2 separate regions of the Homo sapiens genome follow, and region 1 is linked to region 2. The links come from fine-mapping of genetic effects on gene expression. Tissue or cell type: thyroid. Region 2 holds a variant in brackets; the other region holds the start of a gene. All regions are shown on one strand. Distances are from middle to middle.

Region 1 (10,167 bases), 56 kb before region 2:
GGGCCCAGAGATGGGCAGGTGAGTCAGAGGTTGAACCTCCTTCTGAGCCTTTACCCTCCTCTGTCCCAACCTCTTGTGGCTATCTGTTTAGGTTAATAACTGCCAGGCAGCCGGAGAGGAGAGCAGGAAGACACAAGTTTCTCTGTGGTTTCCTTTCCTTATTTCAGGACTCCCCAAGCCTTTACCCATCCCATCAGCACCCACACACACACACACGTGCATTTTAATAATGTAATAATCCCTCTATAAGTCTCAGTTTCCAATTCCAAGCATCGTTTACCTTCATCCAAAACAACAGCAACCCATTATGGATCCAGTGAATACAGAGACCAGGCCAATCCCTGGGGAAGGCAAGGCTTTTCTACAGCCCCCACTTGGCAGTCTCATTAGGGGCACTAGGGAGACATAGGAATCTCTGCGCTCTTTAAATAAAGGCCCTGCCAAGAGAGCTGGAGATTCCCCTACTATTTCCTTGCCCCTGCTAAAGCCTCCAGGAGAGAGAGATCTGGGGGCCTCCATAGCTGTCATCACACCTCCTCTTGGCACTAAGTTGGCAGTCAGCAAAGGAAGTAAATAGGAGGGGAAAATAGTTTTCCAGTGTTTTCTCTCCATTTTTATTTTCATCTTCACAGCAGAATTTTTTTTTCCACAAGGGGAATCTGAGAAGTACAATGCTTTCTTTGTTTTAACAAGGCCTGGGGAAATTCCACTGGCCTCAGTGGCTGATGATCTGGTCAGGGTTCGAGAGAGGACAACAGCTTCTTGGATATTCCTGTTGGTAAGGCCTTCAGGGAATGGCTGGGTGAACAGCCAAGGGAGAAAGGGAAGGGATGGTTTCTATCATTGGATTGAACTGTAAAGGAGCTGCAGGGTGACAGATGTTGGCAGGAATTCCAGTAGAGTTTGTGTGTACAGTGACTCCCTAGCAGGGCTGACACCTGCACAGGCTAGGTGTACACCCTAGCAGAAGGAAAGGTTGCAACATCACCAAGGTGGGGCATTTGCCAGAGGTACATACCAGGGCATTTGCCAGAGGTACATACCAAGGCATTTGTAAAGCTGAGGCTGCTGGTAAAGTTCCAAGAAGCCCTTTTTAAGGCTGAGTAGAGGGAGGAGAAGCCAAGGGCAACCCAAGGCCATCTCACCACTACTCCGAGGAATGGTCCATGGAGACAACAGATTCAAGAGCACATATAATGCAAGTTCCTTGATTCATGCTGTCTATTGGCTGGGAACTTTGAGCTCTTCCTTGGAGGAGGGAGGGTGATCAGGTCAAGGAGGTAGGAACTTAGAGAACGCATTTGGTATGCTGCTGGTATGTAGAGAGAGAGTCATTCTATCCCTCTGGCTATCCCTTCCAGGCCAGCTTTTGCCATGCTTCCCTTCTTTCCCTCTACCCTGTTTCATGAGTAATCTGAAAGGCTTCGTATACTGGGTAGAGGGTGGGGAGGGAACTGCAGTCTGGGTGGGTTGTCACCTCTCTTACTATCCCAGAGCCCTGGTTATAGTTTCTAGAATTAATGAGCAACGTCATTGAGACCCGGGGCTCAAAGGAGCCAAGCAGTGATGACAGTGAGAAAGCATCAGTTCAGAAGGGACACGTCTTTCCTCTCTGAGCCTCCTTTGTTCCCACCTGGTCCTGATCCTCCCATAAAGGAGGGTCACACTGATAGGTCATCTGACCTTGCCTTGCTGCTGGCCTTACTAAGACGTCGCTTGTCACTATGATAGCCATGGGGAAGGCGGTGACCTGGTGAGACTCCATTGGGCACCTCAGGCTTCTGGCCATAACGAACCTGGATGAAACCTTCCCCAGGAGTCTGCTCCTGACCTCGTACTTGCTCGGTGACCAGGTTGTCTGTGTTTTGTTGGGAGGCCATATTATTGCTGAAGGGATTGAAGAATTTTCCCCCAGGGCCATTCTCCAGGCACTGATTAAAGTCGGGGGGTGGTGTGCAGCTCTGGACTATGCCCACAGAGGGGCCAGAAAGCTGGCACTTAGCCATGTGCTGCCGCGGTTTGACAAATCGCTGTCTGATCTTCTTCCAGCCCAGGTGGTAGAGTTCAGCCAGGCTAAGGAGGAGGGACAGTGCAGCCACAGCCAGCATAAAGACAATGAAGACATTCTTCTCTGTGGGCCGGGATACGTAACAGTTGACCGGGTGGGGACAGGGACTCCTGCGGCAGACATGCAGGGTGGTCAGGAAGATTCCGTAGATGAAGTACTGGCCCACAATGAAGCCCACCTCCATGGTGGTGCGGATCAGGATGCTGCACACATAGGTGTTGAGCAGAGTGCCCTGGAGGGCAATCCTTCCATTCCCTTCCTCCCAGCAGGACAGTTCTGCCTTCTCTGCCACCGGGTACTCGTAAGAGCCAGAGCCCCGGACCTCTTTGGCCCTCTCGGCCTCCCGTAGCTTGCGCTTCTCCTGCATGCGCACAGTGTGCATGGCGTGGCCCATGTACACCAGAGAGGGCGTGGAGACGAAGATGATCTGCAGCACCCAGTAGCGAATGTGGGAGATGGGGAAAGCCTGGTCGTAGCAGACATTCTGGCAGCCAGGCTGAATCGTATCACACCGGAAATCAGCCTGCTCATCCCCCCAGGAAGACTCAGCAGCTGTGCCCAGCACGAGCATACGGAATATGAAGAGGACAGTGAGCCAGACCTTGCCTACCACGGTCGAGTGCTTGTGTACTTCCTCCAGGAAATTTCCCAGGAAGCTCCAATCGCCCATCTTGGCACAGCCAGGGAACAGATGCCAAAACTTCTGCAAATGGGAGAGAGAGAAAGAGAGAAAAGAAGAAGGATGTTCTGTGAAGGTCTGGAATGTCTATCATGTTCTGGGATTCCACTGATCCATCCATCCAATGGGTTCTTTAAGAAAATGCAACTTAGAAGTCAAAGCAACCAACGAAAAGCTCGCTCTCCTTTCCCAGCAAAAATAAAAAGAAAGAGAAGATTCAAAGTAGCCATATTAGCAAAATTAGAGCATGGCTCCCACACTTTAACGGATCTAGAAATCGTGGTGTGTGTTACAATATGGATTCTGCTCTTGCCCCAGTAATTCTACTTCAGGAGGTCTGGGATGGCCCCCAGGAATCTGGATTTACAACAAGCAGCCCAAGTAATTCTGATGCAGGCGGTGAGGGACCGCACCTGGAGAAACACGAGTATTAAAAAGAACACAAGACTGGGGTCTGCAAATGTGACTCTGGGCATTTACCTCACTGAGTCTGTTTCTTCATTTATCGAATGGGGATGGGAATAGCTACACCAGAGAATTCTGAGGATTAAATGATATGAGGTGTGTGATATTCTGAAAATCATTCCACAACTGTTCCAAATGTTTAAATGGCTGTTGGATGGAAAAGGAATTTTTTTATGGCTCCAGAGGGCAGAACTAGGTGGAGGAGGAAAGAGTGAGGATGGGATTGGCAAATTTGGCCCCTCAGGAAGCACTCTGCAAAAATCAGAACCATCCAGCATGGACCAGCTGTGTTGGGAGGTGGCAAACAAAAAGTGTGCTTTGGTCACACCAGCTAACAGTATCACAGATGAGTGCTCACTTCCCCTGGCTGGTAAGGCAATGTTGATCTCCCATGCCTCGGTGCAACACAGCCATTCCAGCCACACAGCTCAGCTCGCCCTGCTGCTAAGTTTCTGTGTCTCATTTAAATAAGGTTCCCACACACAGATCTGCCCACCCTTATGTCCAGAATAAATGTCCCAAAACTTTATGTCCCTTACAAAATCCTCCCTCATCTGGCCTTTGTCTGCTTTTCCAGCCTGTTCCTGCCTGTCCACATGAGTTCCTTTTGTCCAGCCATGCCAAGTCTTCCCAAATGCCCTCCTTCTGTACCCCTACATGTCCCCTCACCCCTAGCTGAATCCCATTTACCTTTCAAAACTTAACCCAGTCATTGCCTCCTCCAGCCCTCCCTCCTCCCTCAAGCTGAGCCTCTTCAGCTCCTGTGATGGCCCCCGGGACACTTACTCGTCTCCCAGTGCTTGCTGCCTTGTGTTGTAATCCTCTGCCTGTCTGTGTTCTCCCAGGAGGGACTGTTTGAAAATGGAGACTGTCTTTTCTTCTGTATCACCAGAGCCTGGCCCAGAGTAGGTGTTTAATATATCTTAGTTGAGTGAATGAAGGAGGGGCTGACAGGCACTGTTGTTTCCTACCCAATAGAAAACCAATTCCCTGTTTCTTGCCTGCCTCCCATTGGCAGGGTGAAAAAGCCAGGTATCACTTTCTTAATCTCCTCTGCAGTTAGTTCTGGTAGGTGAGGTATGGGGAGAATCTAAAGTAGAGGGAATGCTCCAGAAAAGGTTTTTCTACCCCCCAGTAAATGGAGAGAGCCTCACTCACAGTGCTCCCATCCCCCTGTGAACAAGAGGGAACCTCACTCACAGTGCTCCCATCCCCTGGTGAACAGGAGGGAGACTACTCACAGTGCTCCCATCCCCCGGTGAATAGGAGTGAGCCTCACTTAGCCCCACCGCTTCCTGCCTGTGGACAGAGTTGTATGAACCAAGATGTCTAAAGCTGTCCAGAGAATCTCAGAAATGTCAACCAGTGCCCTGAGGCCTCTGAAGCAACTCTTGAGGCTCCCTACCTCCAGAATTCTTACTTAGTGAATAACGAATGTTCTTACAGTTTAAGCCTCTAACCATTCCTAACCAACAGGATGACAAACGTCTCGGAGGGAATGGAGCATAAATATTCCTTTCTTAGAATCATAAACCTCAGATTTGGGTGGGTCCTTAGAGGTTTGTCAAATTCAAACTTTGACCGTCATATCTTTGCTGCCAACGTGCTCCTGGTTTCTGTCTGAACATTCTTCATGCTTATGGGGAAAGATGGGGTCAGGGTGGTGCATTTCATAGTCCAGGCTTCCTCAGCTCTTGAGTTGATTGTTGCCTTGACAGGGACCAACCTCCTGGCCCTGTATTCTCTCAGACCCCAGGTCCCCAAACTTGAGAGTATACAGTGTCCCTGGGAATGAGGGAGTTCCTGAGTGAGCGGAAAGCATCTTATCTCTGCTCCTCTCTATATCAAAGACCCATGCAGGTCTTGAGGCCTTTCCTGTCATTTGTGATCAGACATCTGCCCCATTTCCTTAGGTGGCGAAGCGCCCCCTCTTTCAGCCTCCAAATGTGGAAAATTGTGGAGCATGTGCTCAAAAGGAAAATGGCTGATTAGATAAGAGTTTGAATTGTCTGTCCTCTCTTCTGGGCACATGTACAGTGTTCAGCACCTTCAGGGTCAGCCACACACGTGCAGTGACTGAACTATGGTAAATGTCTGAGAAAAAGAGGGAGGGAGAGAAGGGGAGGAATAAAAAGAAGAGAAGAAAAGGGAAGGACAAGGGAGAGTTGGAAATGGAGAAAAAGACCATGTAGGGTTAAGAAAAGACAGATGCAGGAGTTAGCTTACTGAGGTTTGACAAATTTCTATTACCATCTGCTGGGCTTAGATAAATGATTCAATCTGTGTTCCACTTTCCTCACCTGCAAAATGGACATACTATTAACTCATAGAGTGCTATGAGATGATGCGTGCAAAGCACTTAACACAGTGTTCAGCAAATAAGAACTGAATAAAAGGTAGCCATTACTAGCAACAAGAGCAGTGGGGAAGGATGAGAGTAGAAGAAGGAGGGAAAAAGAGAAAGCAGAAAGTAGAGAAAGGTGCATTACAAAGGAGAAAAGAAATGGGAGCAAGAGTAGAAGGGGAGGAAATGAGAGGAAAATGGAAATAGAAAAAAAAAGAAACAAATGTCATATTCTTCCAGGATTTGGGGCAAGTTTTCCACACTCAGTCCCTGAAGACTTCTCCCTTGATCTTCTCACTCTGTCACTCATTCCTTGCAAGTCCCCAAGGAAGTATAAAAATAGTTCCAGGCAAAGAATGTGACCCTTTGGTCTAGTCTGCCAAGAGGCTTGACTGCTGACTCCTTCACTGCTGTCCAAGGAATTCCACCTGGAAGAGGTAAAGCACAGATACAAGAAAGGAACACCTTGGAAAACCAGAAAGGCAGTATTAGGAAGGATATCTTATTGGGAGGGAAAAAGAGAAACTATCTGAGGAGGTATAGGGGTGAGGCAGACCTCCTGGGCCCAGGCAGAGGAAATAGGGTGAAGGGTTTTTCATGTATGACTTCCTGCTGACGCTCAGGCAAGGTCAGAGAAACTTAAAATAGCTACCATGTACCAGATGCTCAGTTTATAATGTGAAAGGTCTCTGGCTGTAGTTACTTTTCCAGCTACGTTGGCTCCCTTTGGATACCCCATCTCAGCCAAAGAAATTTGTAGATTAGATACTCAGTGAGTTTACTGGGCGTATAGCATATAAAATACTTTGTAGATTATTATCTGCTTCTTGGCAGGAAGTGTATTAGGAGGGGCAAAGGAAGCTGCCCATGCCATGAATAAATGCTATCAAACACAATGGCAATTTACCTCACTGCTTTAGCAGTTATCCTCACTGGCTTCCTACCACTTAGAAAGTCCAAACTGCTTAACTTGCCATGTGAAACCCTGTACAGTCTTATGCTATCATTTTTCCACTTTTCCACTCACACACTCAATACTTAAGCTACACAATTTCACATGTACTTATGTGCATCTCACCATTTCTCACCCATTTATCTTGGCTTCTTATGTTCCCTCTGCCTAGAATGTCCTTTTTAAAATTCATTTAATACGTTTATTGAGTGGCTACAGGGTGCCAGCCATCATTCTGGACAATGAGGATACAGCAGGAAGGAGGGGAAACAAACAAGGGATTCCCTGACTTCACTGAGTGTAACTGCCTTTATACCCCTTTATTAACAGCAGACATTAAATACATGATTTCAGTAAAACACAATGTGTGTTAACATAAAGGAAGTATAAGGTGTCATGGGAATGTGGGGCAGGAGCCTGAATCTGGTTTTTGGGTTTTGGGGAGAGTCCTAGGGAATTGCGTTCTAAAGCCCTCTGCCACTGATACAAGTTCTGAAATCAGCAAGGCAAAAAGAGATGGTCCCTAGAACCTGGAAGAGAACCATCCCAACTCTAAAGGTTCTTCACTCCCAAACCTTCAACATCCTCTTTCAACTTGTCCTATCCTGAGATAAAGCAAATTTTGGAGGGGCCACTAGGAAACTTGTTTGGCAATAGCAACATGGTGCTTAGATAAGAGGAAGAGGGCCAGAGGAAGGATTTTGTGTATAGTGAGCATGAATCATTTTATGATTTTATTTCATGTACTGTATGGCCAATGACCAGAAATAAAGCTCAGGCACCTACATTCTGAATCCAGTGCTTCTTTTTTTCTTTTTTGAGATGAAGTCTCGCTTTGTCACCCAGGCTGGAGTGCAGTGGCACCATCTCAGCTCACTGCAACCTCTGCCTCCCAGTTTCAAGCAATTCTCCCTGCCTTAGCCTCTGGAGTAGCTGGGATTACAGGTGTGTGCCACCACACCTGGTTAGTTTTTGTATTTTTAGTAGAGAAGGGGTTTCACCATGTTGGCCAGGCTGGTCTCAAATTCCTGACCTCAGTTGATCCTCCCGCCTTGGCCTCCCAAAGTGCTGGGATTACAGGCATGACCCACCATGCCCGGCCCAGTGCTCCTTCTCGTGGTCCCCCTACACGGCCAGTGTTTTTCAAAGAAAATCATTTCAGAGCAACCCAGATTAATCATAAACTCATAGCCAGAACCTCTTCCTCTGACTCCGCAAATCTACAGCAAAATGGATAAGTCTTCTAAAATTGACCTCAGCCCTCTTTGGTGTCCCCTGAACTCCAGAAGACTGAGCATCTGGTACATGGTAGCAATTTTAATTACCATCCAGCATGGAGGATACATCCTCACACTTGGTTATATATTTCCTTAGACTTGTTTTCCAAACATTTGTCTATCAGCCAACCTGCAGATACTTTGCTGAGTCCCCTTTATGTGCCTACCACTGTTCTGAGTAATGAGAACAGTACCAAAGAGGTGCAAGGCCTGACACACACTGGGCACTCAATGGTGTCTATTAAATTAATAAAATCGGCCGGGTGTGGTAGCTCATGCCTGTAATTCCAGCACTTTGGAAGGCCGAGGCGGGCAGATCATCTGAGGTCAGGAGTTTAAGACCAGCCTGGCCAACATGGTGAAACCCCATCTCTAATAAAATTCAAAAATTAGCCCAGTGTGGTGGTGGGCACCTGTAATCCCAGCTACTCAGGAGGCTGAGGCAGGAGAGTTGCTTGAATCCGGGCGGTGGAGGTTGCAATGAGCTGAGATCACGTCAGTGCACTCCAGCCTAGGCAACAGAGTGAGACTCCGTCTCAAAAAAAAAAAAAAAAAAAATTAATAAAGTCAGGCATGATTCCTTCTGTCAAGTATTTAACAGCTTTTTCTCTCAAATGGGTAGTATGCTTCTCAAAGTTAAAAGCCCTGTCTTCTACTTTGCATTCTTATTGCATTAGGTTCTCTCATTTGGTACACAATAAATGCTTTCTTAATGATTGAAGAAAATGTTTGGCTAGCAGTAAGATTGCAAAGAGGTCCTAAGGAGGCTCAAGTCTTTCTTCTTAAGGTCAGCAGTAAAAATAAAACCTCACAATAAATAAATAAAAATAAAAGCTTACATACTGTTCAAAATGTGCTTCTACATTCTCTTGTTGGTTCCAAGAGAGCAGGATCATATTTGTTCTGTTCAAGACCGAATACCTTCAGAATGTTATAGACATTCAATTTTTATTGTTGAATGAATGAATCCTCATAACCACTCTGTGGGGTGATTGTTATTGCCTGTGTTTTGCAGAGGAGGAAACATATAAAAGTGATTCGTTCAAATAAACAATTAATGGGGGAAGAACCAGGGCTTCATTCCAGAGTTTCTGTTCAAGTCTGGTGCATGCCAGAAAGTTTCATTCCATCTCCCCTCCAAGAGTGGAGCTCATCAATTCTTAGACCTTCGAGAGGACTTCCCAGTGGAGATAACTCTGGTGTAGGAGTTAGGGGTATGTGATGTCTGTAGGGGTGTGGAGTGGATGGAGGAGTTGCAGAAGAGATGAGGGGATTTCAGACAAAGGCAAGACTGCATGAACAAATTCATTGAAATGAAAACCAGCATGGTTTTAGAGTACAATGAGCAGAGCATGGAAGGAGAGTCTGCATAGCAGGCAGGAGCAGATTGTGGAGGGCTTTAACAGCCATGCCTAGGAGTTTGGAGTCATTCTCAACCCACATGATAGGCCATGCTTAGTCCATTATTTGCTCCTGAGGGCCTAATCTGAAGCCTCCAAATGGGGTTGGGGATGTAAAGGACTGCACAATTAGTAATGTCCATGCTTGTAGCAGTCTTTTAGTAGTGGCTGCAGCATCAACTAGGTAGGCTGCAGATGACAGGTACCTCCCAGCACACTTGCTGTGACTGCACCCTCGTCTCTCCTGCTTAAGAAGGTATATTGCTAGTGAGTGAGGCCCTACCATAGGGATGCCTTGAAAATTCTCTTCTTTCTCTTGATTCCAGTTCTGTCCTGTGGAGTCACACATAATAGCCTTTCTAATATAGTATTTTACAATAATTTCTGTGTCCCCCAAGTCAGCAGCTGGGCCTTGGGCTGAACTGTAAAGCCTTGGAGGTCTCACACACCTGAGAATTAGTTGCTCTACAGGCCATGTATTCTCTCTCCCACTCAACCCTGAGCTCTTTGAAGACAAACTGCTTTTCTGTTCATCATTGTATTATCCTCCTGAAATTCCCTCCACCCCAAACCCCTTAGTGCTCAATACCACACCCTGCACAGTGTGGTATGTACTTTATAAAAACAACGATGGATGAATTGATAGCATTTAGGTCTCTCAAAACACCTAATGCCAAATTGATCAAGGCAATTATTTACCGGTTGCTGAAGAAAAGGATGAGAATGCACACAGAGGCCAAGCAACACGTTGGGGCCATGCTGCATGTCAGTGGAGGGGCCTGCCTGGGAAGCTGGCATAGGGACACCTGCCCAATGACGATGGTGACCAGAACACCAGGGAGATGGAAGCCACTGAGTGTTTCTTCTACCTGTGACAGAGCCGTTCTCTCAGCAGGAATGAATGTGTCTCAAGCAGAAATTCCATCACTGTGGACTACTCTCTCACTGCCTCCTCCCCTCATAGTACTGGGGAACTTATCCA
Region 2 (10,167 bases):
ACAGCAAATCACAGCTCATTAGTGAGACATGAAATCAATTTAGTGAGCTGAAATCACCATATTTTATCTTAAAAGAGAAAAGAAAATAGTTTGCGTTGCACAAAGTAAAGGTGAGTATTGTTTTATAAAACTTCTCTTTCGGTTGTGTGTGTGTGTGTGTGTGTGTGTGTGTGTATTCTGGGTGGAGTATTGAGTGTATTTTTTGCTGTTATGACACAGAATTTACCCATCAAAGAAAAGCACCTATTATAAGCTGTGGCAGAGGGTCTTCCAAAGGCGGTTGTCCTACCCACTCAACAAGGACAAGCTTGGGGTTCATGAATCATGGGATGTGAACTGTGAGGACCTGACAGTCACCTTAGCTCGTGGGTATCAGGGCATCCAGAGGAGTTTGATTTGAGAGTGGGACTGATCAGAGGATTCAACAGTCCTAAAAGAAAAGGATTCTTGCTGCTAACAGTAAGGACAAAACTGAGAGACTAAAGGTAGCAGAACAAACAAAGGGTCTGGTGCATGGATTGCTCCAAAGAGGAAGGTTAAAGTAGGCTGTCAGTATTTAATGTTAATACAAAGCACCTAGCTAGGTGCTGTGGAGTTCAAAGGAACAAGATAGATCCTGGCCTTAATGAGCCCACATCACAGTAAGGTTGAAAACCAAGCAGATCTGAACCAGTAATGGGCCCACATGTGCAAAACAGCATGTTAATCAAGAGTAGACCTCATGGGTATCAACTATAAGAGTAGTAAGCAGCCAGAAGCAGAGAGAGTGTGAGCAAACTCACAGGGGAACTTGAGCAAGGCGCTAAGGGATGAGTCAGAATAGTGGGGTGGGAAAGGCATTTAAGATCCAATATCCAGAGAAATTGAGTCAAGGTGGGAGCTCCGAGCCAATGTGATGTGTTCTTGAGCCTACACCAATATTAGCCTAGCTGGAGCAGAGGGATTCTGTCTGGAGACTTGCTTTGTAGGGTGAGGCAAGGTTATGAAGGGTCAAGGAAATGGATGTGATATTATAAATAAAATAAAAATCTAACATAACCCAAATGTCAGTTTCAGGCACCCTGCCACTTGAGATTCAGATAAGATTGGCTCGAATCTCCATTCCACATCCTGTGGAAAGTTTAATGCCCTCCCCAAGATGTCTGCATTCTCTCAGAGCAGTTACTTTTTTGTGGCCTCCTCTGGTTCTGGAATTAGTTCTGTTGTTAGTGATCTCACCTTCCAGTGCGTGTAGCCCTCTTACCCAGTCCCTTGAGTGACAGTCCCTTGAAACCCAGTCCCTTTCCTTGATTTACTTATACACACATACATAGACACACACACACTACAATTTTACAAGGCCTTTGCTGACATTTTGAGAAAAATGAAGAAGGGAGGATTTACCCAGAAGCAATGGAAACAAATCAAAATTTAATATTAAAAAGTCTGTGTTCTTAACAGATTATTTCTTCCCTAACAGGAATTCTGATGCCAGCTACTAAGATAATAGTTGAGTTTTTATTTTTAATTATTATTCTGCTTCACCAAGAAATGTTACAGAAGAAGAGTGGCAGCTATAAATGACAGAGTAGGAGGTGGAGGACTAAGTGCAGAGGAGGAATGAAAGAAAGGAAACAAAAAAGAGGGTGTGGAGATGATTTTGAGGTTTAAAACATTGTCAAAGGAATGAAGAAAAACAGAAGTTAAGGAAATTCAACCAAGTCACATTGCACTGACTTGTATTTACTAAACTGATGTTTTGAAATTCAGGTCTGAGGCTGGTAGGAGGAAGGAGTTTGGAGAAAGGAGCCATGTAGAATGACACATGGAGGTTAGACCTCCAGCCAGAGAGGAACATGAAGCATCTGAATTCTAGCCTGAATATGCTCCTAACTTGCAGTATAATCTTATTTAACTCACTTCCTTTTCTGGAACACTCAGTTTCTTATCCGTACAGCAAGAAAGTCAGATTAGTGACCCTTTGCCATAAATTCCATCATCATCTGTTTATTTTTATTGTCTTTCTAAACTTATTATTAATAGCTGAAGGAGCCACAGGAAAGAGTTCAATAATTGTGAGTGGAGGGCAAGAGGGATATCAAAACTTCTGAAAATGAGTGGGATTGGAGATGTTAGACTAGTTGACTAGGACATTAGCTAAAATGTTGTACAGTTATTCTAATAGAGTTGTATTTTAATAGAGAAAGAAGATCTTTAGCAGAAACACATACTAACTGTTCTGAGACTCAGCTCTCCAAGAAGGCCTGGTAGGTGGGCCCACACCAACATGAACATTCCTCTCTGTTATTCTGGTGTCTCCTATCCCAACTTTGGACATAGTATCTAGAAAAGAAAAATACGCCCACTAAATTCTGTCTTGATAAACCTACCTTCCAAAGAAGAAGTGTTTCTCAAAGTGTGCGCAGTTGGTCCTAAAGATGCTCTGAAAATAAATGAAAAACAAAGGGGAACCCTTGTGGGAAACCAGCATATGCACCCCCCAACATGTGACTGTAGGAGACCAGAATATGTTACCCCAAAATATGACTATGGGGAACATAATATGCACCCCAAAGTATGACTATGGCAGAAAAGAATATCTACCCCCAAATATGCCTTTTTGGCATAAGGATTATTTTGAGCTGATTATTTTGAGAAACTTCAGACACAGGAGAAATTCTGAAAACAGAGTAGAAGTTACCCTTTTGTAAGGGAAATTTATACCCATAAGCCTCCATTTGTAAGGGCATCTTTCTCTCAGTATAAGGAAGAGAAGGCTGACTAAATAACAAGAGACTTATCAATGGAGAAGACACTGACTTTAATCTGCATAACCAATCTTACCCTTGTTTCCCATGCTTCTCCTGGGCATCTCCTCATAACCAGCCTTTCCCACACCTTTCTTTCTTTGTCTTAACAGATAATGGTATTTAAGTCTGTTCTGAGATTAACTCATTTCTCTGGGTATCTCCCAGAGATATACATGAGGTATACATGTTACTAAACTTCTGTTTCTTTTTCTTTTATTATTCTGTCTTTTTTTTTTTTTACAGGAGTCTTTCTTATCTAAAAACTATGAAGGATAGAGAGAAAAACATTTCCCCCCCACAACATGTACTTGCTTTGAGTCTTGCTGAACTTCCCACACATTCTGTGCTCATGGGACATTGTAGATGTTATATGTAAATAGGGTAACAGAAGGGCAGAGACACATATTCTCTCTGTTCGTGGACCTGCTCCGTTTTCCCATCAGATTCCACTTATCAAACAAAAGTTCAAAGATAAGATTAGGAATAATTTCAAGATGGTGAGAGCAGTGTACTAAGCCAAGTAAAGGGGTCTTCTGAGCACAGGGTCCTATGTGACTGCACATGTCTCTGCCCATGGAGCCAGCCCTGGAAAAGGGTTCATCAATCACATAAATGTCTCTCCCTCTGCTGGCCATTATTGTGCTGTATTTGGGAGATATGGCAGCCATCTTCCGACCACGAGGGGAACTAGCCTGAGGACACATCTGACATAAGGGAAGAAAGAAAGAATGGTGTCTCAGTTCATTTTGTGCTGCTGTAACAGAATATCAATTTGTGGGTAATTTATAAGGAACAGAAACTTCTTTCTCACAATTCTGAGGCTGAGAAGTCCAAGAGCAAGAGGGTAGCATCAGGCATGGACCTTCTTGCAGAGTTATCCCATGGCAGAAGGCAGAAGGGCAAGAGAGGGTGAGAGAGGGCAAAAGAGGGTGAGAGAGGGCAAGAGAGGGCTAAACCACTTTTATTATAACAACGCACACTCTCCATAACGAACCCACTCCCACAATAATGACATAAATCCGTGTGTAAGGGCAGAGCCCTCACGACCTAATCACCTTTTAAAAGTCTCACCTCTCAAAAGTCCCACCTCCCAACACTATTGCATTGGGGATTAAGTTTCTAACACATGAACTTTGGGGGACACATTTGAACCATAGCATTCTTCCCCTAACCCCCAAAATTCATGTCCTTCTCACATGCAAAATACATTTATTTCATCCCAATATCCCCAAAGTCTTAACTCATTCCAGCATCACCTCAAAAGTCTGAAGTCCAGAGTTTCATCTAAACTGATTATCAGTGAGACTGAAGGCAGAATTCATCCCAAAGCAAATTCTTCCAGCTGTGAGCCTGTGAAATTAAACATATTGTCTACTTCCGATATACAATGGTGGGACAAGCATATAATAAACATTCCCATTCCAAAAGGGAGAAATAGGCAAGAAGAAAGGAGTAACTGGTCCTAACTAACTATAAAACCCAACAGGGAAAGCAACAGTATGTCTTAAAGCTGGAGAATAATCTCCTTTGACTCCAAATCCTGAATCCTGGGCACACCTGGGTGGAGGTTAAGCCCCCATGGCCCAGGCAGCCCTACCCCCACAACTTTGCTGGGCTCAGCCAAGCTTCATCTCTCTCAAGCTGGAGTCTGGTATCTGCGGCAATCCCAGCCTAGATTACACTAAAGCACCCAGGCAGTGATATTCTGTTATGGCAGCACAAAATGAACTGAGACACCAATTTTGGAGTCTTGGTGGTGGTCTTGTTCCCTCAGCTCCAGTAGATATTTCCATAGTGGGAGTTTTCTGCGGTGGCCTCATTCCCATGGCTTCACTAGTCATTGCCTAGGTAGGGATTCTCTGTGGCAGCTTCACTCCTGCAGCAAGTTTCTGCCTGAGCCCCCAGGCTGTCCACA[A/T]CACCCTTTGAAATCTCAGTGGAGGCCGCCATGGCCCCACAGCTCATGCACTCTTTGTGTCTGCAGAGTTAGCACCACATGGACAACACCAAGGCTTACAGCTTGCACTCTCTGGAGCTGGGGCACGAACCACATCTGGGCCTACATTCACCAAGGCTAGAGTGACCAAGGAGCACTGTGCCAGAATGTGGGGAGCAGAATCCCAAGGCAACCCTGAGCAGAGAGCTCATGGAGGGCACTCAAGGCTCATCCCCCCAAATCATTCTGCCCTCTTAGAGTTTTGGGCCTGTGATGGAAGAGGCAGCCTTGAAGATCTCTGAAATACCTTTGGGGTCATTCTCCCATTGTCTCAATGAATAGCATCTGGATTCCTTCCATCTGTAATCATCTCCTTATTAAATAGTTGCTTGTCTGCATCCTTGGTGTCCTCTCATAAACATGCTTCTTTGCCAGGCACGGTGGCTCACGCCTGTAATCCCAGCACTTTGGGAGGCCGAGCCGGGCGGATCACAAGGTCAGGAGATCGAGACCATCCTGGCTAACACAGTGAAACCCCATCTGTACTAAAAATACAAAAAATTAGCCAGGTGTGGTGGTGGGCGCCTGTAGTCCCAGCTACTCAGGAGGCTGAGCCAGGAGAATGGTGTGAACCCAGGAGGCAGAGGTTGCAGTGAGTTGAGATCGTGCCACTGCACTCCAGCCTGGGTGACAGAGTGAGACTCTGTCTCAAAAAAAAAAAAAAAAAAAAAAAAGGCTTCTTTATTCTTTACATGGACAGAAAACATTTTTCTAAATTTTTATATTCTGCTTCCTTTCTGATCATAAATTCAATCTTTAAACTATTTGTCTCATTTTTCATTTTACTGCAAGGGGCCAAAAGAAGCTATGCAGCACCTTTGGTGCTTTGGTGCTTAGAGATTTCTTCTGTAAGATATCCTAGTTTATTGCTCTTAAATTCTGCCTTCCATAAAGCCCTTGGGCATGGATAAATTCAGCCAAATTGTTTGTCATTCTGTAACAAGGATGACCTCTACTCCAGTTTCCAATAACTTGTCTCTCATTTCTGTCTGAGACCTCATCAAAATGGCCTTTACTGTCCATATTTCTACCAACATTCAGATCATGACCACTTAAGTAATCCCTAAGAAGACAGGCTCTCCCTACAGCTCTTGTCTTCTTCATAGCTCCCACCAGAATCACCCTTAACGCTCAAGTTATGACAATATCGGCTTTTTCTAGCCTGTTCCTCCAAATTCTTCCAGCCTCTACCCATTACTCAGTTCCAAAGTCACTTTGACATTTTTAGGTATTTGTTATAGCAACAGCCCCACTGCTTGGTACCAATTTTGTGTCTTATTTCATTTTGTGCTGCTATAACAGAATCCTACAGTCTGAGTAATTTATAATGAACAGAAATTTATTTCTCACAGTTCTGAAGACTGAGAAGTCTGAGATCAAGGGGCCGCGTCTGGCAAGGCAAGAGAGAACAAGAGAGGGCTGAACTTGCTTTTATAACAACCCACTCTGTCAATAACAAACCTACTCCTACAATAATGACAAAAATCCATTCATGAGGGCAGAGGCCTCTTGACCTAGTCACCTCTTAAAGGTTCCACCTCTAAACATTATTGCATTGGGGATTAAGTTTCCAACACATGAACTTTGGGGATACCTTGAAATCATAGCAGAAGTGTCTTTGGAGAGGTTATTGAGTCTCTAAATTAATCAGTTCCCCTAGCCACTTTGAGTTGAGTTTTCTCTTATTTGTAGCTGAAAGCATCCAAATTTGGCCCCAACCCAGAAATCTATATTTTTAACTAGCTCCCTGGGTGACTCTGATGCAGGTAGTCTAGAAACCATATTTTGAGAAACTCAGCTCTAAAATGATGGCAAACATCTCAGCTGTATCAGAAAAACCATGTTTCCACGAGATGGATCACCTCGATTGATTCAAGTGGGTGCCTCAAATGCACAGTTCTTACTTGCTTTGACCATCAATACTGCCTTTGTACAAAGTTCCACGTACCCTCTACACTTAAGAATTTCTTTTTTAAAAGTTATCTGTGATTGCTTAACATCCTGGGAACTAAATAGCTGAAAATCTTGGTTTTATATCTATTTTCTTCATGTTATCCCTCCAGGGTGATATGGGAAGATTTATTGACTTCCTTAGTACCTCATGGAGAAACTGCATGGTGTAAAATGTTTTTAGAGTCTCAGGATTCTCCAGGGGCTCACCCAATCACTCAATACCCATGCATTGATCTAAATAAAGAATAGCGGCGGCGGCTGCTATTCTTGCAAAGTAGGGTCACAGTGCCTAACTTCCCCTCCTGAGAAAACAGGGGCCCAGTTCTGACCTGCACTGTCCTCATAGAGCTTAGATCGGGCAAGGGAACAGAAGCAGCTGCAGCAGGGAGTATGGAGTAACTGGGGAAGAGAAATCATTCAGGGCTAAAATAGCGCCTGAAACTCAAAGACAGTCCAATTCAAGTGCCCAATTCACAGTGATCCGAAAAGAAAGACCAGGCCAAGGAAAAGAACAGGTCGTAACCTGGGTCAGTAAGACAGAGAGAGAGAGAGAAAGAGAGAAAGACAAAGAGAGAGAACTGGAAGTTGAGAGGGATACAACCAGTTTCCCTTTAGGGGTGCCTGTGGCTTTCCATGGAAGAGAAAGAACTATTGACGACATTAAGTTGGTTTGTTGTGGAGAAAAACACCACAAACTTCTTAGTACAGATTGAGTAATCCTAATCCAAAACTGAAATTCGAAATGTTCCAAAATCTAAAACTTTTTGATTGTCAACATGGTGCTTCAAGAAAATGCTCATTGGAGCATTTCAGACTTTTAATTTTCAGATTAGGGATGCTCAACTGGTAAGTATAATGCGAACATTCCAAAATTCAAAGAGACCTGAAATCCAAAGCACTTTTGGTCACAAGCACTTCGAATAAGGGATACTTAACCTGTATATGCATTTGTCTCTCAGCAAATTGGTAACAAGTAGAGGCTCAAATCTCCGACACAGTATATTATAGATGGCACTTTTGCTGCAAGGGGCAGAAAGAAGGGATAAAAAATTATTTTAAAGCTGTACATAGTCCTCCATAATGCACTGTCTTACATTATTTTCTTACTGCATCATGGAGAAGAATCGTCTGCATCTCTCAAGGGGATTATAGCTCCCTGAAGGCAAGGACCATGTTTTATACTTGTATCACCACTTTATGGTGAATTTACATCTCCACAAGTTGAACTGAATTGATTTGAGCTATACCATTTCCCAAAGGAGTCATTTGATTTAGAAAGCAATAAATGAAACAAGGGCCGTCCCTCTGTAGAGGAAAGCCAACAGGCACTTCCATAGACATTGTATCAGGAAGTGGGAGAACTGATTTCATCCCACCCAAATGCCATATTTTAGGCCATTATCCTTTTGTAATGAAAATGGGTGGGAATATATTAATATTTCTCCTCTTCCTCCTCTATCTTCTTAGTCTTGTCTCAAAAAGTCTCTCTTGAAACTCCTCCTTCCATAAGGCCTGCATTTCCGCCACTGGAGACTTGTTCCTTTGAATTAAGTATAGCCCTCTTGAGCCCAAAGTTTTAAAATGTAAATACCTCTGGGAAAAGAAACACATTACATCTCTATTACTTTTATATAAATGCATTTAACCCAGGCTCTTCTCCTCGTAGAAAGGACTAGGCTCCTCCGGGGGCTAAGAATGATGAAAAGGGAGGAAAGCAATGATGCCCAGAGAAGAACAGATGTATGGGGCAGGGAAAAATGGTGCTCAGGTAAAAGTCAGCCTCTGTCCCAATCTCACTGAGGTCTGGCCCTGAATAAAACCAATAATAATAATCACAGTAGCTTTTATAGCTCATTATGTGAGACTCATTTCTTCGTGGTAAAACTCCTTTACAAAGCTCATTACAAATAACTCCTTACACAGGGCTATTATCCCTTTGTAATTAAAACAATATATTGCATCCTCCACTTGGGATTCCTGTGAAACAGCATGGATAATACACAATGGCACTCTGAAAGCTTTTATTTAGTTCCTCTTGAGTCAAAGCAGAAGCTTCCAGGAAAGATTTATCAGCTAATTCCAGAGAGTTATCTCAAATAACTCACATGCAAGATATGGGAACCGTGGGGGAGATTCAAAGCTCCCTTTAGGGTGTGAAGAAGGTGCAAATGTAAGATCATCTCCAAAGCTCTCATGAAGCCAATGACGTATCACCTGTGGATTTACTGGGGAAAGAGTGAGAATTGTGGCGTGAGCAGAGAATGAGGGCTTATCTCTTCTAAGCAAGCTAATCTTTCCCTGACATCTTTCTTTTTGCACTAGAAAAATGTATTTTTTAATAGGTATGCTTTGTATAAAAGAAATTTTGAACTTTTGAAATCCACTGTTTGTTCTTTTCAAAGGGTACTAATAGTGGGCCTCAGTGACTTTATCTATAACTTGGATTAATAATGCCCACCTCAGAGGGCAGAAGTGAGGATCAAATGAAGTTGCATGTGAAGCACCTGGTCAGAGCCAGGCACAAGGGAGAGGCTCCATGGATATTTGTTAGGTCCCTTTCCAACTTCTCTCAACCTGACTGTAATCCCAGAACTTGCTCTGGGAAGCCACTGTGTCAAAACTCCTAGATCCCATTTCTAACTTCTACTCTCCCCTAAACTACATTGCTGACAAGGAGCTGCCTCTTCTAGGTACAACAAGAAAGGATTTTGATTTCCTAACTCTCCCATAACCAAATTTTCCAAAACCAAAGACTGGAATGCATGGCCTCACCATACGGATGGGTTTTTTTCTTTTCAGATATGTTAATTTATTTATGTGACAAGTCCTTCAAAGGCAAAATAATTAAGATACATTCAGTTATGTATGTAAAGAACTATCTTTTTAAAGAATGAAATTACATCAAAAGAAAGAAAACTCAGCAAAAAGTCCTGGATAATTTGACATTGGGACTGTTGGAAACAGCATAGTCATCACAGACACCTTCTTCATTCGCTGATCACTAAGGGTTTTTAGAGTTGTTGCCAACAATGTTAAGTCCCATTCGGTCATGGGCTGACCTTTCTTTGCCAAGTAGCCTGGAACATTTTAGTCCTTTGTTGCATGTGTTGCCATTTCCTCAGACCCACAGATCTTATGACACACACTCTGGGTGTTGCTGAGCTGAGATGCCTGGAAAGTGGTCAGTATGTCCAAGTGATGTGAATGGAGGGAGAATCCTCCAAAAATAGAAACATAAACAGATGCAAGGTTGAGAAATAAGTCAAATTGCCATATCATTATTTTGTTTGGGGTAGTTTAATGCTGTGGCTCATTTTTATCTCATTTCTTACATCCTTTAGCCAAAGCAGAAAGACTGGTTATCCCCATTCCCCTCTGCCCTACCTTCCTACCATCTCAGAGACAGGCTGCTTGAGGGCAAGGACTGTGCCT

Alleles and levels. Alleles are on the strand shown, and positions count from the first base shown. SD is a standard deviation of normalised expression in the study named.
In carriers of allele A in region 2, the expression in thyroid of the gene that starts at base 4,102 in region 1 tends to be higher than with T alone (small effect, 0.39 SD a copy in GTEx).

What was found. PIP is the estimated chance that this variant, and not a neighbour inherited with it, causes the effect. A credible set is the group of variants that fine-mapping cannot tell apart.
Region 1: GJA5 starts here. The variant in region 2 is the best candidate, but not a certain one, in a credible set for the expression of GJA5 in thyroid (GTEx, PIP 0.80).

The regions. Positions count from the first base shown.
Region 1 is chr1:147,756,501-147,766,667 of GRCh38, forward strand. GJA5 (gap junction protein alpha 5) reads right to left here and starts at 4,102. Exons shown (of 2, transcript NM_181703.4): 1 at 3,999-4,102; 2 at 1-2,771. The coding sequence starts at 2,738. The coding sequence ends at 1,662. The region is part of intron 1 of LOC102723321 (a long non-coding RNA gene); the gene reads left to right. RefSeq lists a silencer at 1,881-2,175.
Region 2 is chr1:147,812,219-147,822,385 of GRCh38, forward strand. No RefSeq gene overlaps it. Among named protein-coding and RNA genes, the nearest start is that of GJA5, 57 kb to the left of the region's middle. The variant A/T (reference allele first, on the strand shown) is at 4,705.